Linked DNA regions of Homo sapiens. The protein of the gene in region 2 interacts with the protein of the main gene of each other region in a pairwise test. Each region holds a gene or a part of one and is shown on either strand. Other genes may lie near its edges. The genes, in order: OLFM4 and CCNB1IP1.

The links.
Region 1: the proteins of CCNB1IP1 (region 2) and OLFM4 interact in a two-hybrid assay, tested with the Homo sapiens proteins (one large-scale study listed by BioGRID).

Annotation. Positions count from the first base shown.
Region 1 is NC_000013.11:53,038,547-53,042,379, reverse strand, and holds part of OLFM4 (olfactomedin-4 precursor), read right to left. Parts: intron 471-3,833; coding exon 258-470; intron 1-257. UniProt on the Homo sapiens protein: May promote proliferation of pancreatic cancer cells by favoring the transition from the S to G2/M phase. In myeloid leukemic cell lines, inhibits cell growth and induces cell differentiation and apoptosis.
Region 2 is NC_000014.9:20,313,363-20,316,400, forward strand, and holds part of CCNB1IP1 (E3 ubiquitin-protein ligase CCNB1IP1), read right to left. Parts: coding exon 2,865-3,038; intron 440-2,864; coding exon 106-439; intron 1-105. UniProt on the Homo sapiens protein: Ubiquitin E3 ligase that acts as a limiting factor for crossing-over during meiosis: required during zygonema to limit the colocalization of RNF212 with MutS-gamma-associated recombination sites and thereby establish early differentiation of crossover and non-crossover sites.

The DNA.
Region 1 (3,833 bases), on a different chromosome or scaffold from region 2:
GGGCATTTTATTCTGGGGCAGGATTCTGACCATTAGACAACATCTGCTCCTAAGTCAGCACATTCCCAATGTGCTTAACTTACTATTCAAACACATGCCCTTATCCAAAACAGAACATAGTGATATGCCATGTGGCCATGAGACAGTAGAGAATTAGAAGTTGGAAGAGATAGTTTCACTTCCTGGTACTAGTACTTGCTTACAGTCACTGAAGGGAGTTTATTATTAATTTACCAAGAAGTGAGTTCACTCCTTACCTCCACCTCCAGCTGGTCAACAATTTCTGAGCTTCCACCAAAACTCTCCTTCAGCTGTATGACCAGTTTTTCCATCTCCTTCACTTCTACCTTGATCAGCTCGAAGTCCAGTTCAGTGTAAGAAATGGTATCCTTCTCCATGATGTCAATTCGGACAGTTAGGTTTAACAGTTTCTTTTCATACACACTAATTAATTGGACATATTCCCTCACCTGAAAGAAAATCAAAAGGTTCAAGCCAATTCCCTGAGTAGTATCACACCATCTTCTTCCACTACCGAGCCCTTGAGTTGAGAACTATTTGATTCTTGCCAATCATTGTGTTTTGTAAATAAATAGATCAAAAATACATTTAACTAGATTTTTAAAATCTATCCATATACAAAGAACTTATTACTCCAATTGAAGGGAGGTAGATTTTATACTTTGCTAGGCTAAACATAATTTTGCTTCAGCATCATCATTTGCAGGTATATTTTAATCTCCATTTTTTAAAAAGGTTTTAGGCTCAGGGGTATATACCCAGGTTTGTTATATAGGTAAACTCATGTCATGGGGGTTTGTTGTAAAGGTTATTTTGTCTCGCAGGTACTAAACCTAGCACCCAATAGATTTTTTTGTTGTTGTTCCTCTCCCTCCTTTCACCCTCCACCCTCAAGTACGCTTCTGTTGTTCTCCTCTTTGTGTCCATGTGTTCTCATCATTTAGCTCTCATTTATATGTGAGAACATGTGGTATTTGGTTTTCTGTTCTTGTGTTAATTTGCTTCGGAGAATGGCTTCCAGCTCTCTATCCATGTTCCTACAAAGAACATGATCTCATTCTTTCTTATGGTTGCAAAGTATTCCATGGTGTATATGGCCCATATTTTCTTTATCCAGTGTACCATTGATGAGCATTTAGGTTGATTTCATGTCTTTGCTATTGTGAATAGTACTGCAATGTACACACACGCCCATGTATCTTTATGGTAGAACAATTTATATTCCTTTGGGCATATACCCAGTAAAGGGATTGCTAGGTTGAATAATAGTTCTTTTTAGTTCTTCGAGTCACCACACTGCTTTCCACAATGGCTGAACTAATTTACACTCCCACCAACAGTGTATAAATGTTCCCTTTCCTCTGCCATCTCACCAGCATCTGTTATTTTTTTACTTTTTAATGATAGCCATTCTGGACTGGTATGAGATGGTATCTTACTATGGCTTTGATTTGCATTTCTCTAATGATCAAGTGATATTGAGCCCTTTTTTCTTAATCTCCATTTTAATGTTTGAAGACATTAACTCCCCAAACTAAACTGGTTTGTATCATAGTCTCTTGCCATCTCTCCTCCCTTCAACACACTTACTCTAATTGTTTCTCAACCTCAGCACTGTTAGCATTTGGGACTGGATTGTCATTTCTTGTGGGGGTTGTGCTGTGAATTACACAATATTAAGCAGCATCCCTGGCTTCTTCATGCCAGTTGCATCCAACCACTCTCCAGTTATGATAACCAAAAATGTCTCTGGGCATTGCTAAATGTTCCCTGGGGACAAAATCGTTGCCACGGCCAACACCACCCTCCTTCCATTTAGAAACATGGCTCTACATCTAAGTATTTTCTGGAGAAGGGAGAAATGCGCTATGCCGAATTCCTTCTTTGATCGCCATATACAATTAGTTTTGATCCCCTCTGCCTTTTACAAAGTGGCATAGAGATCCAACCTACTACACAATATGTGAGTGTGTGTGCCCTGTAGAGTACACATTTCATTAAGTGCACCCACATTTATTCCAAGAACTGATTATTGCAATCAGACCTTTAAATTACAGATTTGTTGCATATATTTGAATGTCTGATCATTAAGTTAAAATACTTCCAAAAATTCCCTTGGCAGTTTAGTGTATAATTGGAATATCCAAGTGGATATTTTAATAAACACAGTTGGTGGTTCTTTCTGTGTCTGATCTCTAAAGAAAATGCCATGGCTTTTTTAAGGACCTGCTCATTAAATAAGTTGCTGGCTTTATATGCTTTTTAAAAATTTGAACTGAAGTGATACTTTTCCCAAAACTACACTAATATCAAGTAGCTGATCCACAGTGCCTGGATGAATTTAGAGCCAGATGTTGGCCTTTAATCCTTCTTATACCAAAAGCAATCCTAACTTCTGTCATTTCAGCCCTTCCACTTAACCCCATTGTGCAAATTAAAGTAGACTCATAGACCACAGACCTGAAGGGCTAGGGCTTCAGGCAAAAAGGATTTTAATGAAAGTCGAAAAAACAGTCCTTGGCACTGCTAGTGTATCTCCTCGGGCAACTGATGCTCACTGCCATTGGATGTACCATAACTCGGAGGATGACAAAGCTGGTGATATTTTGGTGGATAGGGAGGTTAAAACATATATACGGCCACCTCTTAGTATCCATGGTGGATTGGTTTCAGAACCTCCCAAGAATAACAAAATTCAAGGATGCTTAAGACTCTGACAGAAAATGGTACAGTATTTGCCTACAATCTACACACATCCTCCCAAATACTTTAAATCAAGTCTAGATTACTTATAATACCTAAAACAATGTAAATGCTATATAAATCATTGTTGTATTGTTTTTTATTTGTATAGTTCCTGTTGTTACATGGTTATTTTTATTAGTTTTTTTCCGTGAAATTTTTCAATCTGAGTTTGGTTATATCTGCAGATGCGGAACCAAGGCTATGGAGGGCTCACTATATATAAAACCTAACAAGTCCCCCTGAGAAGTGCACTGCAGATATAGGGCTGCCAGGTTCCAGTGTCTACAAAACTCAGGCATAAAACCTTGACTATGATAAAAATAAATAAAGTGCCAATCCATTACAGAAATGGAAGTTTGAGAAATAAATATGCTTGTTGGCATTTGGCCTTGCCAGCTCTTGGAACAAATGAAACACCCTCAGCTTCTCTGGAACATTTTGGTGGCACATCGCAGCTGTTGTTCTACAAAAATGAGTGATTCAACTGTCATCTCTGCTAAATAAAATGTGGTTCTCCTAGATTTTCACAAAAAAAAGCAAGGCATATTCTGGAGTTTGTTACCTATAAAAATGTGTGGTGTGCCTGCCCTGGTGCAGACAAAATGAAGGGTCTGTAAAGATCCATTTGAGGAAAAAACTCAAGGTTCTTCAGCTGACACTTAAAGGATGCTCAGTGGTGTTCAGGAAAATGGCAATCATCCATGGAGTTAGAGAAGACACAAAAGAGCTTGGGGATGGGCCAGAAAGACTTCAGAGTGTGAACTTTACTAATTTAAGTAAATCATTCATATGAACTTTTCACATATATGAATCTGTAGCTTTGGGAATGCGTGGACAATGCTGACCACATGTCAGCTCCTCCTGGGAGGTGCAGTCTTGGGAGAGGCAGCCCAGCCTGCCTGGGAGCCTCCAGTCCCACATCTGGCACTTGGGGCACTTTCTGCATTTTTTTCTTCTTCTGGAAAATACAGTCATTTGCTGCATAACATTTTTGTCTATGACAGACTGCATATATGACAGTGGTCCCATGAGATTATAAATATCATATTTTTACTGTACCTTTTCTA
Region 2 (3,038 bases):
GCTTGTCTTATCCTTATCGTCTCGACTGAATGCTTGGAAGTGGGCAGAGCAGTATAAAAAATCATTGATTTAAAGAACAGACACTTGATACATGTCCTTTCTTACCTAATGGGAAGCCAAGAACACCAGACTGTGCAATCATGGATGGTTCAAGGGTGCCTTCATGGTTAGCAATAGTGATGTTTCGTAGCCTAAGGCTATCATAGAGGCCTTGGAGCTTTTGATACTGACGATTGCGCTCCATAAGTTTCTCAGAGATGTCACTGAACTTTTTCTTGTATTCTTCTAGTACTTTCTTCATGGAGGTAACCTCCCCTTTCATAGAGGTCAATTCTACATCCTTGCTTTGTATTTGCTGAGTATATATCTTCTCCATCTGTTTCAGATGGCCCTCAGCCTTGCTGAAATTGTATTCTTGATAGAGACGTTCCTGATGTACCTGGTTCCAAAAGAAAAAAGATTTTTAAGGTATTGGGTACAAAGTTATATATTGTAAAATGTTATACAAACACAAAAGGAAAAGAAAGATGCTTATATAGGGATGTTATTTTATCATTTAGAACCCAGTTTAAGAAGCAATCAGGATACACAATGAGGCACAGAAAACAATAAGTTATGTTACTAAATGCATAGAAAAAAAGTCTGGAAGAATACTCTCAAACCACTAACTTTATACCACCAAAAGAACTGAGTATTTGTCTTAACAAGTGACATGTTTTCCAAAGGTTTTTAAGAAATATAATCCCATTTTTCAAGTAATCCAGAGCATGAAGAATAGACTCTAAGACAACCACAAATTATCGTCTCCTGGTACATACACCCTTGTGTAACTCCCTATCCCCTTGCACGTGGGCAGGACCTGTGACTAGAATACTACAGAAAATGTGACAGGTTGTCACTTCATAAGTATATTACCTAAGACTATAAGGTCTGTCTTACTAGGAGACACACTCCCTTGCTGGCTTTGAGGAAGCAAGCAGTCATGTCAGGAAGGCCCAAGAGACAAGTAACTAAGAACAGCCTCTGGCCAATAGCCAGCAAAAAATTGAGGACCCAATGAATCTAGACAGATCTTATACTTTTCACAAAAATAAACTCAAAATGGTTCACAGACTTAAACATAAAATGCAAAACTATGAAACTCCCAGAAGATAACATAGGGTAAAATCCAGGTGGATCTTGGATTTGGCAGTGACTTTTAAAATACACCAAAGGTATAATCCGTGAAAGAGAAAATTGATAAGCAGGACTTCATTAAACTTAAAAATCTCTGCTCTGTGAAAGACCCTGTAAGAGAATAAAAAGACAAGCCACAGATCAGGAGAGTATATTTGCAAAAGATAGCTCTGATAAAGGATCAAAGAATACTTCAAACTCAACAGTAAGGATAAAAAGAACACTTAAAACTCAACAATAAGAAAACAATTTAAAAATAGACCAAGAACTCGGCCGGGCGCGGTGGCTCATGCCTGTAATCCCAGCACTTTGGGAGGCAGAGGTGGGCGGATCATGAGGTCAGGAGATCGAGACCATCCTGGCTAACACGGTGAAACCCCGCCTCTACTAAAAATACAAAAAATTAGCCGGGCGTGGTGGCGGGCGCCTGTAGTCCCAGCTACTCGGGAGGCTGAGGCAGGAGAATGGCGTGAACCCGGGAGGCAGAGCTTGCAGTGAGCTGAGATCGCGCCACTGCACTCCAGCCTGGACAACAAAGCGAGACTCCGTCTCAAAAAAAAAAAAAAAAAAAGACCAAGAACTTCATATACACCTCACCAAAAAAAAAAAAAAAAAAAAAAAAAAAAGGCAAAAAAGCATATGAAAAGATGCTCCACATCATATGTCATCAGAGACATGCAAATTAAAATGAGACACCACTATACACCTATTAAAATGGCCAAGACCCAGAACATGGACAATACCAACTTCTGGCAAAGATGTGGAGCAACAGGAATTCTCATTCATTGCTGCTGGCAATATAAAATGGTATAGCCACTTTGGAAGACAATTTGGCAGTTGCTTACAAAAATAAACATACTCTCACCACATAAGCCAGCAAAAACACTATTTGGTATTTAACCAAAGGAGTTGAAAAATAGAGGAGCATGTAAGAGAAACAACTTACCCAGAAAAATATAATAAAAAGTTACTTGACAGATGACAAACATCCTTAAGAAGTATAAGTGTATATGTAAGATATAACAATACATTCAAGGACATGCTTAAAGTCATCCACAGGGAGGTCTTTCAAAGGAAATACTAAAAGTAGAAATCATAAAGGGAAAAAGTTAAGGATGCGTATTTGATAAGAATGCTTATCATAGCATTTTAATAACTTGGAAATAAATTATGATACAATATAACCATTAAAATATGATTATAGAATAGTTAACTAAAAAATATTTAACAAGATATTCATACCAAGTGAAGCACAGGCTACTCAGGAGGCTGAGGCGGGAGAATGGCTTGAACCCAGGAGTTAGAGACTAGCCTGGGCAACACAAGAAAACCCCGTCTCAAAAGGAAGAAAAATTCATACCAGATATAATATACTGTCAACTCTTAACAATAAAAGTGTGTGTGTTATCTTACTTTTATACAGAAGAGAGAGAGAGTGTGTGAGTGTGTGTGTGTGTATACCCAAAATATAAACAATGGTTATCTCTGAGTGATGGAATTATGAGTGCTTTAATTTTCTTCCTTTTGATTTTCAACAATAAACAGTATTGCTTTTGAAAACAATTTAATAAAAAGAGTTTCTCATATACTCATAAAAAATTAATAATAATACAATGAAGGAAAGACACTAGAAGTTCCCACAAATGCCATAAATCACATGCTCAAGAGAAACTAGACTAAGCACTAACCTGATATGTCCAGAAGGCCAGCGCTCGGGAGCTAATGTCCAACACGATCTCTGGTCGCAGTCCTGCCAATACCATAGCTTTATATTCCTCTGATGGACTGAGTTCTGTGCGGACAATATCTAGCTTTCCAGAAAGGGTACTGTTGCAGGCAGGACAGATAGCTGGTGAGCGACT